3 separate regions of the Homo sapiens genome follow, and regions 2 and 3 are each linked to region 1. Evidence: fine-mapped QTL for protein levels in blood plasma. A gene starts in region 1. Each other region holds a variant in brackets. All regions are shown on one strand. Distances are from middle to middle. Region 1 holds the start of IL2RA (interleukin 2 receptor subunit alpha). Region 2 overlaps IL2RA (interleukin 2 receptor subunit alpha). Region 3 overlaps IL2RA (interleukin 2 receptor subunit alpha).

Region 1 (4,273 bases):
AATAGCTAGAAATAACACGAGTTTACTTGAAATGTGTCTTCCAGAGGCAGAGCATGATTAATTGTCAAGATTTTCCTGTTCTTGGCTTAGACTGAGTTAGCAAAGACCCTGTGGATGTAGAAATCACATTGAAAAACCTTCCTAAAAGTATGCCCTCTTTATAAGAACGGCACGATGGACTCTGAGGACTCAGGGGAAAGGGTGCGAGGTGGGTGAGGGAAAAGAGACTACGCACTGGGTACAGCATACATGCTCAGGTGATGGGTGCACCAAAATCTTACAACGCATTGGGTACAGCATACATGCTCAGGTGATGGGTGCACCAAAATCTTACAAATCACCACTAAAGAACTTATTCATGTAACCAAACACCACCTGTCCTCCAAAACCTATTAAAATAAAACACATAGGTCAGGCGCGATGGCTCACACCTGTAATCCCAGCACTTTGGGAGGCCATGGCTGGTGGACCACAAGGTCAGGAGTTTGAGACCAGCCTGACCAATATGGTGAAACCCCATCTCTACTAAAAATACAAAAATTAGCTGGTCGTGGTGGTGCACGCACCTGTAAACCTAGCTACTCAGGAGTCTGAGGCACGAGAATTACTTGAGCCCATGAGGTGGAGGTTGCAGTGGACTGAGATCACGCCACTGCACTCCAGCCTGGGCAACAGAGTGAGACTCTGTCTCAAAAAGTAAAAAAAAAATAAATAAAAATGTAATAAGTAAATAAAATGCCCTCTTTAAAGACACTCCTACATCTGGGCCAGTACACAGCCCAGCATGACTGGGCACTTCCCCTAAACAAGCAAGCAGACTCCTGAAATGCATCATTATGTTTCATTTCTTAATAAATTCTTTCTACAGCCAGTTAGCATTCTACTTGTTGCCATTATAGACTTTCAAAAAACACTATAAACTTTCTTATCTGTCTTCCTGAGTAAGCAAAGGGAAGACATTATTAGAAAATTCACACTCAATTAGGAAGAGTGGTTTGAGGTAGAAGTTGGTGGTTTTTTATTTCTTTAAAAAAAAATATTGGCCAGGCACGGTGGTTCATGCCTGTAGTACCAGCAGTATGGGAGGCCAGGGTGAGTGGATCACTTGAGCCCAGGAGTTCAAGACCAGCTTGGGCAACATGGCAAAAACCCCATCTCTACAAAAAAATAAATTAACCAGGTGTGGTGGCGTATGCCTGTAGTCCCAGCTACTCAGGAGGCTGAGGTGGGAGGATCGCTAAGCCTGGGAGGCGAAGGTTGCAGTAAGCCAATATCGCGCCACTGCACTCCAGTCTGGCTGACAGAGACAGTGTCAAAAAAAAAAAATCTTCGAGAAAATCCATTTGAAACAAGGAATGAAATTTAAAATTTGCATATATAAACACGTATACATATACATATCATGTATATACATAGGATTATGAGAAGTAGTAATGTTCTAAAAGTGAGTATGCATATTTTTAAAAATTTCTGTAAAGTTGCACTTGTAAGGAAATTCCTAGGTGTTATTTCCTAAGACGTAAAAGCAGTGTATACATCCTTGAAGCTAAACTTTTCTGAGATCTTAAATTCTCCCAGTGTTTGATATATGAGTACTCATGTCTCCAGCAAATTAACCTGAACTTAAAGAGCTTCCTGATAGCTTCTTAGTTGGGGGGTGGGAGTGCAGAGAATAAAAGGAAATTCATTGAAGAATAAAAGATAATTTCTTGAGAAACCTGCTCATCGGGACCCTGTTAACATCCAAATATCCCAAATATCATGCCACACTATTCTTCCCAGAATTAATTGTCAAGGACTGAGAAGGACAGGAGAACCTAATGCTATTTCAGGCTCTCTTGACAGACCAAGGAACAGTGAGGCATAAACTGGGGTCCCCGTGGGTCACAGGCAAGAGGTGGAACCCAAGATTCAACTCCCTTCTTGGAACCATCTACCTGGGGACTCCCTCTGGTTCTGTGGCTGGGAAGAGGGATGCCCATCAGCCTTCCCGGAATTCCGGGGGCACCCACAGGCCCTTACCTGCCTGGCAGCCAGGCACCATGATGAACGTGAGCAGTCCCCACATCAGCAGGTATGAATCCATCTTCCTGACCCTTGGGACCAGCCGGGGCAGTGAAGCGGAGGTCTTTCTCTGCAGAAGGCCCAGTTGCCGTCAGCCTCTTTTTGGCATCGCGCCGGAGGATGTGGGATGGGAAGATCGGTCCGCCTGGGCTGTCACCCTTGTGGGTCCATCCAGTCTCTATCGGAGTCAGGAGTTGCTCTCTTTAAGTATTGGGCTGGCGTGTTCAGCCAGGAAACTGCCTAGCACTCTCTTCTCTCATCTCAAATATAGGAAGTGTTTTTTTTTTTTTTTTTTTTTGATGACAATATAGTTTGCGGTAATTTTTCAAACCAGGTTTTTTTTTTCAAGTTCAATTGCTGGAGGTGTGGGCTGGGGTTGATGAGAAGGATTGAACTTCATTTATGAATCCTTTCTTCAGCTACGCCCATAAAAGGAGAGGGAGATTCCCCTGCCGTTGAAGGTAGGGTGAGCAAGCACTTCTTGGCAGTGGTCTCACCCAGCACTTCATAAGCTGAGTCCTCCCCTCAGGGCTGTAACGTCCTCAGGAGTCAGCCGGGACCACCTGGGATGAAGGAGCAAAGTCCTGACAAGATTCTGGTCAGGCAGCCTCCAATATTCAAATAATGGAGAAGGATGCGGCGAACTGAAGGATCCTGAGAATTCATAAATAATTCCCCAAGGCTTATAACCTGTACTAGCCATCATCATTTCACCACAGTGCCCTGGGCTCCTGAAAGTGCATTGTCATTTTATAAGGTGTTTTGCTTCCAGATTTCTTTCTCTTAAAGGATCATGCAAAAAGTGGGCTTTGGTTTTAAACTTTGGATTATTTTGTAAAATTCAGTCTTGCTTATTTATTGATCAGAGCTCTCTTCTGATTATTATGAAATGGTTGAGTGTGTTTTGCTCCCTGGAAATTTGTCTAAGACTTAAAGCCATTGCATAGTTAGAGCAAAACACAATTTTTTAAATACTAGAAAGCAAGCAAAGATATTAACAAAAAGAAAACCCTCCGGGCAAGCCAAGGAATTCAGGGTTCCAAAACACATCACGTTGACTGGGCCTGGTGGCTCATGCCTGTAATCCGAGCACTTTGGTAGACCAAGGTGGGTGGATCACCTGAGGTCAGGAGTTTGAGACCAGCCTGGATGACATGGTGAAACCACCGTCTCTACTAAAAAAAAAAAAAAAAAAAAAAAAAAAAAAAAATTAGCCAGGCGCAGTGGCACACGCCTGTAATTCCAGCACTTTGGGAGGCTGAGGCAGGCAGATCACCTGAGGTCGGGAGTTTGAGACCAGTCTGGCCAACATGGTAAAACCCCATTTCTACTAAAAATACAAAAATTAGCCAGGCGTAGTGGCGGGCGCCTGTAATCCCAGTTACTCAGGAGGCTGAGACAAGAGAATAGCTGGAACCGAGGAGGTGCAGGCTGCAGTGAGCTGAGATTGCGCCACTGCACTCCAGCCTGGGCGACAGAGTGAGACTTCCATCTCAAAAAACTTGTCAAAATATGACAAGATTCTCTTAAATTCCACAGCAGGTATAACTTCCTCTCTAGGAACGTTTCTCACTCTGCGGGCAAGTGCTCCAGTAGAAACTCCTAGTACTCCCACCAAAGTCACGCTCCTTTCTTCTTGGGCATGGGAGTAGAATGCACTTGCTGCCTCTCCTGGAAAATAGCTTATGCTTTAAGTAGTTAATGTGGATTGTCATTATAAAATATTTAAATTTATGTTAATGTCTTTTTTTTTTTTTTTTTGGAGCGCAATGGCACAATCTTGGCTCACTGCAACCTCTGCCTCCCAGGTTCAAGTGATTCTCCTGCGTCAGCCTCCTGAGTAGCTAGGATTACAGGCACGCGTCACCACATCCAGCTAGTTTTTGTATTTTTAGTAGAGACGGAGTTTCACCATGTTGGTCAGGCTGGTCTCGAACTCCTGACCTTAGGCGATTCACCCACCTCGGCCTCCCAAAGTGCTGGGATTACAGGTGTGAGCCACCACGCCTGGCAATTACAAGATTTTTTTAAAGCCATATCACAAAGCCCCCACAATTTTTCTGGTAAATAAGAGGCCCAACTCTTGGTTCTGAGATGGACCATGGTTAAACAAGTCATTGAACTGGCTTTTCTGGTTCACCTTACGGATGAACGCTCTGTCGTCGTTTGCTGATGCTGAGGTTTCCAGTTGATGCTGCATGGCACGATG
Region 2 (4,000 bases), 38 kb before region 1:
TCTGATTAAATCTCTGAATTCCCCACCCACAGCCCCCAACCTGGACATATGGAATTGTATGTGCCCTCTAACCCCAGCCTGTGAAACTGCGCACGTGCTCTGAACTTCCAGACTCTCCCCAACCCTGCATACCCAACAGAGCCTCTGTAAATATCCTCCAGAGCCTCTTCCCCAGCAGGAAGCTGGGTGGCCCTGTCCCAGGCTGGCTCCTGCCATGTGGCACCTTGAACATCACGACTGAACTTGTGTTTTGGTCTCAGGATAAAAGGTTGTTTGACAGCCAGTACAATTCGTAACTGTCTGAACATGTTTGAATTGGGTTTGCTTCTTTCCAATGAAAACACCCAAACTGAGACAATCTTTGAAACATCCCTCAGGCAGAGCCAGCCTTCGAGAAAGGACAACAAGCATTGGCCTCTTTGAAGCCTTCCAATAACTGTGCAGGGTGATATGGGGGAAGTAGAACAAAACAAACAAATGTGCTTGGAAACACCATTCCAGGACAAAGTCGGAAGGGGAAGGAGTAAGAGCATCATGTTGCAACTGTGCCCCTAGATTAGTCTGTTTTAAAAAATAAAATAATGGAAGCTGTAAGTAAATTCAAACTCTTTTAAAATAAGTAATCAGCAGAAAGTTTCCTCATCTAATCTGGGAGACCTGAGGTCTGATTCCAGCCCTACTATGTGAGCTTAACCAAATCTTTTTATCTTTTGTGCATCTCAGTTTCTTCAGTAAGTTGAAGTAACCCTTCCTGGTCCTGACTCATTGTATAGCCAGGCTCAAATGGGATGGTATCTGATACAGTTCTTTGTAAGGTTGTAAAATCAGCAAAGGGCTCTGAAGTCTCCTAAGGCTAGCCTGACCTTAGAAAGCTCAATTCTTCCTAGCAGGTTCTGTGGGTTTTTTTTCTTTTTTGTTTTGTTTTTTTGAGGGGGGACAGAGTCTTCCTCTGTCACTCAGGCTGGAGTGCAGTGATGCAATCTCTGCTCACTGCAACCTCCACCTCCTGATTTCAAGCAATTCTCATGCCTTGGCCTCCTGAGTAGCTGGGACTACAGGCATCCACCACCATGCCCAGCTTAATTTTTGTATGATTGTAGAGACAAGGTTTCACCATGTTGGCCAGGCTGGTCTCGAACTCCTGACCTCAAGTGATCTGCCTGCCTCAGACTCCCACAGTGCTGGGATTACAGGCGTGAGCCACTGCGCCCAGCCCATTTTCTTGACACCATAACTGAATCCCAATTCAGTCGTGGGAAAGCAGAGGGCAGACAAGGGACAGCCACAGTGCCCACTCATGCACAGACTGCTGGCCAGGACACACGCATCTGGAGCTTTTGAGACTCACAAGTGTGGCATGCACATTTTACAACCTTGCCCTGGAAGAAATACTGGGAAGCAAGTAATTTTTTTGCGGTGCGTTGTCTTGTGCTTAAGGGGAAGACGCAGAGCGTTTCCTTGAGGGCAGGGATCGTTGTCACACTCTTGTTTGTGTCTTCTATCAGCAGGGCCTGGCACACAGACCCAACAGACGCTTTTAAGTTGAGTTGAATTTGGGTTGAATTCTATTTGGCCAGTTACCAAACCAGGGAGTAAGCCCAGACCTGGATTGGCTGCCGTCAGATTGGCTTTAGTTGCTGAGCAAACAGCCTCTGAGCAACTCTGCACTAATTCTTGTCTGCAATGATGTCTTGGGAGGACGGAGCCACATGCATGTGTTTATAGAAGGCAGGGCAGACCTTCTTCCTTTGGGTACACATCATCTGCCTGCAGGAGAAGGGTGCGCTAGCAGGAGTTAGCTGGAGGACAGATTCATCTCTCACCTGGAAGGCTCGCTTGGTCCACTGGCTGCATTGGACTTTGCATTTCTGTGGTTTTCCTTTCTTTCTGTTCTTCAGGTTGAGGTGTCACTTGTTTC[G/A]TTGTGTTCCGAGTGGCTAGAAAATATAGATGGAATGATGCAGATAATTTCACAAATGCTTCATAGAAAACACTGTTCATGTATTCATTCACTTGAGAAGCACACCTGTCCAGGGCCCACGATGTGTCTGGTGGTGTCTGGCTGCTGAGCTTACAAATACGAAACCAGAGTATGCCCTCCCAGCACCGGCCTCTGGGTATTCAAGTGCATATGGCAATGCCCACGACATGTTTTTGAGCGTGTGTATACGTGTCTGTGCATGTCATGTATGTTACGTGTCTGTGTATGCCATGTATGTTACGTGTCTGTGTATGTCATGTATGTTATGTGTGCATGTGTGTGTCTCTCACCAAAAGGGACTCCTTGCTTGCTGTCAATTGTCTCTGTGTTGTTTGACAGCAGCAGGAGTGGTCTCACTCCACAACACACTGATCCTTTGCTCCCTAAGGCTGTTCAGAATGCTTGAAGTTAGAGACGCCATCTTAACACAATGACAAGGAAACTTCTAGAACAGCCCTCTCTATTGTGAAGAGTTTGGCAAAGGAGTTGAGTCTGAGTGCCCCAGTGAGGGGGGTGATCAGTATTCCAGCTCAGGATAAAAGAGGGTGTCTAGGTCAGGTGTGGTGGCTCACACCTATAATTCCAGCACATTGGGAGGCTGAGGCAGGAGGACTGCTTGAGCCCAGGAGTTTAAGACCAGCCTGGACAACATGGGGAAACCCCATCACTAACAAAAAATACAAAATATTAGCCAGGCATGGTGGTGTGCGCCTATAAGGCCCAGGCAGGAGAATCACTTGAGGCCAGGAGTTCGAGACCAGCCTGGCCAACATGGCGAAACCCCATCTTTGCTAAAAATAAAAAAATTAGCCAGGCATGGTGGTGCACACCTGTAGTCCCAGCTACTTGGGCAGCTGTGGCACAAGATTCACTTGAACCCAGGAGGTGGAGGTTGCAGTGATCTGAGATTGTACCACCGCACCCCAGCCTGGGCAACAGAGCGAGACTGTCTCAAAAATAAAAATAAAATTGTGTGGCCGGGCACTGTGACTCATGCCTGTAATCCCAGCATTTTGGGTGGCTGAGATGGGCAGATTACTCAAGGTCAGGAGTTTGAGACCAGCCTGGCCAACATGGTGAAACCCCATCTCTACTAAAAATGCAAAAATTAGCCAGGCATGGTGGAGGGTGCCTGTAATCCCAGCTACTCAGGAGGCTGAGGCAGGAGAATCACTTGAAGCCAGGAGGCGGAAGTTGCAGTGAGCCGAGATCGCGTGCCATTGCACTCCAGCCTAGGCAACAGAGTGAGAGTCTGTCTCCAAAAAAAAAAAAAATTGTGTTTAGTGAATGACTTTTCAGGAACCACTAAAATTAGTTATCCTGTAGACTGGACTGGCCCATTTGTGTCTATAGGGCTGAGTGAACAAAAGCTGGGCTCTGTCTCACTCTTTGCTGCAGTTCTTTTGTTCTTGGTAGTCACAGAAGGGACACTTACCAGAGCTTGTGCATTGACATTGGTTGTCCCAGGACGAGTGGCTAGAGTTTCCTGTACAGAGCATATAGAGTGACCCGCTTTTTATTCTGCGGAAACCTCTCTTGCATTCACAGTTCAACATGGTTCCTTCCTTGTAGGCCATGGCTTTGAATGTGGCGTGTGGGATCTCTGGCGGGTCATCGTCACAGAGCTCTGCAAAGCAAAAGAAGCCTATTAGGAACTCAAGAGGCCCCAGGCAAGTACTCACATATTTAATCCTATAATGACTTAATCACATATTTCTTCACTTTATTTAAAAGATGGTATGCCCTACTTTTTGTGAGAAAGCAACTAAGGCTGCTACCATTGTTCTTTAGAAAGCTTTGTATCAGAGCTGGCTCAAAAATTAACTACAACCAAGCTCCTCTCCAAAGCACAATGTATTTCAAACTAGATGAGTAGAAATTAACAAGGTTTTATTCCGAATATGCCTCATGTCAAGCAAGTATGGAGAGAGGAGGGTCAAGGAATGTGAAGAAAGGAAGAAGCAAAGTTACGTACATTTAATTGAGGGGCAAAATATGTCTGTGCAAGATACTTTTAAGGAT
Region 3 (4,000 bases), 24 kb before region 1:
TGTTCGACTCCACTCTCAGTCACTCGTCACTCTTCCCAGAAGGACAAATGTGCAGCTTCTATGTCTTGGATTTCAAATAAAAGACGAGGAACTTGGTGAAATGAGGTGGTCTTTGCCTTCCGCGTCACTCTCTGCTCCTCCTGGCAAGAGGCCCCATTTTTCTTGCCACTGAGGTTAAGTGAAAACAAAACAAAACAAACAAACAAAAAAGAGGCCCCATTCACAGTAAAGATAAACAGCAGCCTGGGCAGGCCAGCGGCTCTTCCCTGACGTGGAATTATGAGCCCTCTTTCTTCGATTTTGCCACATACCCGCAGCTGCACTCCCATAATCTGAAAGCTGTCCCTTTAATTTTTACCACTTCATTATTAGAATTGGAGTAGAATGAAAATTAATTTTTCCCTGAGCTATTTTTGTGTCCCTTGAGTTAACCAGAAATACCAACCCTGGAAAGAGATGTGGGGGACAGTCATTTTAGAGAGCGGACACCACTGCTGAAGAAGAAGGATATCCCGGTTGGCTGCTCTAGAGCCGGCAGGACGGATGCTGAGGTTGTTCGCAGCAGCGTGTGTGCAGAGCCCCCGGGATCTTGCAGACTGGGATTTGTCAGGGCAGGTGTGGACATTGAGGCTATTTCTAACAAGCTCCTACATGATGCTGGGGCTGCAGAGCCCCAGGCCGCACTTGGAGTATGAGAGTTTCCAGGGAGTGAAGCCCCGGCTGCTCTCTCTGCCCCCTCTCCATCTGCCCCCTGGGTGAGGACAGGACTCCCATCCCTCCAGTGCACAGTGAGTGCTGCTCAATCTGCATCCACAGCGGTTTGTGCCCAGATGCTTCCTCACTCAGCGTCTAACAGGGTGCAGTGGAAACGTCATTGACTGGAGGAAAGGTGTGTGGGTGAGAAACGTTTGTCGGTTGAGTAACTTTTTGTCGTTATTTTTTTTCTCTGATGTTCAAAGTAAGAGAAAACTCATCTGGCCCCTGGAGCCCATGTGAGCAACATGAAAGATAAAGGGAAAAGGGGGCTGATAAAGATGTGGACCGAGTCTGAGATAAGATTCT[T/C]TGCCCCTTGGGTGAATCCAGGTGAAGTTGTTTTACTCTTAGCCCAGCCAGCCCTGGATAAAGGCTTCATCCCTCTTCTCTTTCCTGTCCATATATCAGAACTTTAAGCTCTACTTGTACCCAGTGAAGATTAGAATAACGCACGGAGCACAGGAAATGTCTAGGTGATGATTTCACTGAGCTTTACAAGGGACACAGGTACGCATCAAGAGCTTGGGCCACTGGGTAAAGAGGGATCTGGTTCTTGCTCTAACGCGGTTCATCTTCTGTGTCAGAATCAGATAGATTCTGGGTGTCAGAGACCCGAATCTTCCTCTTGTTCCGCTCACTGCCCCCCTGTGGCCCCTTCTCATTTCAAATGCTCTGTCTGTAATATGAAATGAAAAGAATTCCTCCCAGACCCCTAGCCAAATTTCACCTTAAGCTCGTTGACTCCCAGAGGAAATCTCTGTGGGAGACTGGAAAGAGGACGCTGGAGCCAGAGGCTATCTTTGATAGTGAGGTGAGGTTTACTGTTTAATAAGAACTCCAAAGATATGCCTAATATTGAAGGTTGTCTCTCGCTTCCTTGGGAAACCCAAACCAGAAGTTTAGGCCGTATAGAAAGTAAGTGGTTTGGGTGCAAAAGGGATGTAGAACATCCCTTTTAATGGTATCATAGAATATGAGAACTAGAAGAGAGCTCAAAGATCATTTAGGCCAACCTCTACATTTTATAGATAAGAACACTGGGCCTGTGGTCATTCCACAAGTTTGTGGCAAGCCTTGGATTACAACAGATCACCAGGTTCCCTGACTCCTAGTTCAGTGCTTTTCCAACACCCAGAATCATAATCTTCAGGAAGGAGCGTGCTTTTCACCTATCTGTTGAAGGTTATCTCTTACAAAGAGGTGGAGCTATGTCTAAACTATCTGGGTGCTGGGAGGTGTTTGTGTGATGTTGTGGTTTAGTTCAGATTATTATCTTTGAAGAAGTCAGAGGGCCCAGGCCCTCCATTTGGGGTTATCTATATAATAATAACTATGATGTCTGAGCCCTGCCTATGTGCTGCTTCTTTGCATATATTACCTTCAATGCTCACCATGGCTCTGGAAGGTAGATACTGTCATCCCCACTTTAGAAAGCAAGAGATTGAGGTTCAGAGAGATTAAGTAAGTTGGCTAAACCACACAGCTCAAGGTGGTGGGACAGGAGTCACGTGAAAGTCTACTATTGCTGCCCTCATGTCAGCCTTCTAAAAAATCTCACTTTTACTTTCAGGAAATTCTTTCAAATAGCAAACATAAATGCGCACAAAGAAGCAAGGAGGAAGAGGAGGGAACTGTGTAGAAAAGGTTTGTGGAGGCAATTTGTTCTAAGGTTATTTATTATTTGAGAGGAAGGCTATGATATTGGTTAAATCTAGGCTTTGTAAAGTCTGGATTCATGTTAAGATGTTAAAAATTACATCTAAAATGACAGAGTAAAGTGAATAACTTACAAGCTATTGGAAGAAAATAAAATAGGATAAAAACTTACTTAAATCAAAAGAAGGGGGAAATGCATAGAAAGAGAAGGTAAAAAATAAAGAACAAAATAAGACAGTGGAAATTCATCAAACTATATCAGTAATAATTATCAATGTGGATAGATTAACCCTGCAGTTACAGAATGTTGGACTGCATATATTTTTAAAAATATGCAGTTATATGATGTTTATAAGAGACATGCTTAAAGCATAAATGCTCCAAAAGTTTGAAACTAAAAGAATGGACAATTGAATCCAAGGAGTTATATTAACATCAGACTTCAAGGCAGAAGCATTAATAGAAATACAGAAGTCAGTACGTATTGCTAAAGATTCAATTCACCAGGAAAACATAAAAATGCTATATGTGTATGCACTCAAAAACATCACTTCAAAATATACAAATCAAGAATCAGGAAAACATAACACTTACGTACTTCTATGCACCCAATAACATAACTTCAAAATACACAAAGCAAATATTGACAAAACAAGGATAAATTTAGAAATCTACTATCATAATGAGAAATTTTAACAGTGTCTTCCTTTATGATGGATAGGACAGACAGAAAATCAGTAAGAACAATCAAATGTGATAACCACAATTAACAAATTTGATTCCAACAATAGCAGAGCCCACTCTTTTTTCAAGCACACATGGGACATTTACAAGGCAGTAGAGGAGTTGAAGGCAAGTTAGGGGCAAAGAGTGGGTATCTATGGGGTAGGAAAATGGAAGTCTAGATAAGGAATAAACAGAAGGAAATGTTGAAGGTAAAGCTCTGGGTGTCAGAATCTTCCTCCTCTTTCACTCACTGGCTCACTGTGGTCCCTTCTCATTTCAGATGCTCCGTCTGTAACACGAAATGAAAAGAATTCCTCCCAATCATGTAACCATAGGAGCTTCTCATACACCCCAAGCCATTTCCTTTTACCATGCTGATATGTCCTTTTAGGCCTCTTGACATAGTACCCCTTGCTGGGAATCCTGCCCCTGCCCATGAGCCAGGCAACAGAATGAAGGCTGCTCTTAACTATAAGGTGCCTGAAAGGTGGGTGGGAGTTCAACTGGAAGGTTAGGCACGTCAGGCCATTCTGGCAGAGAATGTGTAAAAGTGTAAAACAGCATCATCATATGGAAGATACAAGAGACTACAGGTAGAATGTTTTGCTGAAGCATGAATCGTGAGGGTATGAAGGATGGAAATATGAGGATCAGTTGAAATAACATAAGTGACATTGAAATCTGTAAAATGCTCCACAAATTTTGATTGTTGCTACAATGACCTCTTGAGCGGTGTTGTTTTTAGAACCCAATGATAAAATATATAGTTACTTTCTAAGCTGAAAAACAATAATTAAAGCGTTCATTGCTTAAAGCTTGATTGTGTCACAACGAGGAAATAGAGTTTCTTTTGAATTCATATTCT

What was found. PIP is the chance, under the fine-mapping model, that this variant and not a neighbour inherited with it causes the effect. Protein levels are from antibody-based Olink assays in UK Biobank. Linkage for the fine-mapping came from a reference panel and not from the study's own genotypes, which makes the PIPs less certain.
Region 2: its variant is fine-mapped to the plasma level of the IL2RA protein (UK Biobank, PIP above 0.99). The variant lies in the coding sequence of IL2RA. If it changes the protein, the assay may bind it differently, which can mimic a change of level.
Region 3: its variant is fine-mapped to the plasma level of the IL2RA protein (UK Biobank, PIP above 0.99).

What each region holds. Positions count from the first base shown.
Region 1 is chr10:6,060,066-6,064,338 of GRCh38, forward strand. It overlaps IL2RA (interleukin 2 receptor subunit alpha), which reads right to left and starts at 2,302. Exons shown (of 8, transcript NM_000417.3): 1 at 2,023-2,302. The coding sequence starts at 2,086. RefSeq lists an enhancer at 2,013-2,062 and a cis regulatory region at 2,055-2,685.
Region 2 is chr10:6,022,421-6,026,420 of GRCh38, forward strand. It overlaps IL2RA (interleukin 2 receptor subunit alpha), which reads right to left. Exons shown (of 8, transcript NM_000417.3): 2 at 3,414-3,605; 3 at 1,824-1,934. Among named protein-coding and RNA genes, the nearest start is that of IL2RA-AS1, 11 kb to the right of the region's middle. The variant G/A (reference allele first, on the strand shown) is at 1,919.
Region 3 is chr10:6,036,319-6,040,318 of GRCh38, forward strand. The region is part of intron 1 of IL2RA (interleukin 2 receptor subunit alpha); the gene reads right to left. It overlaps IL2RA-AS1 (IL2RA antisense RNA 1), which reads left to right. Exons shown (of 2, transcript XR_001747349.2): 2 at 1-104. Among named protein-coding and RNA genes, the nearest start is that of IL2RA-AS1, 2.9 kb to the left of the region's middle. RefSeq lists a silencer at 2,187-2,246. The variant T/C (reference allele first, on the strand shown) is at 1,063.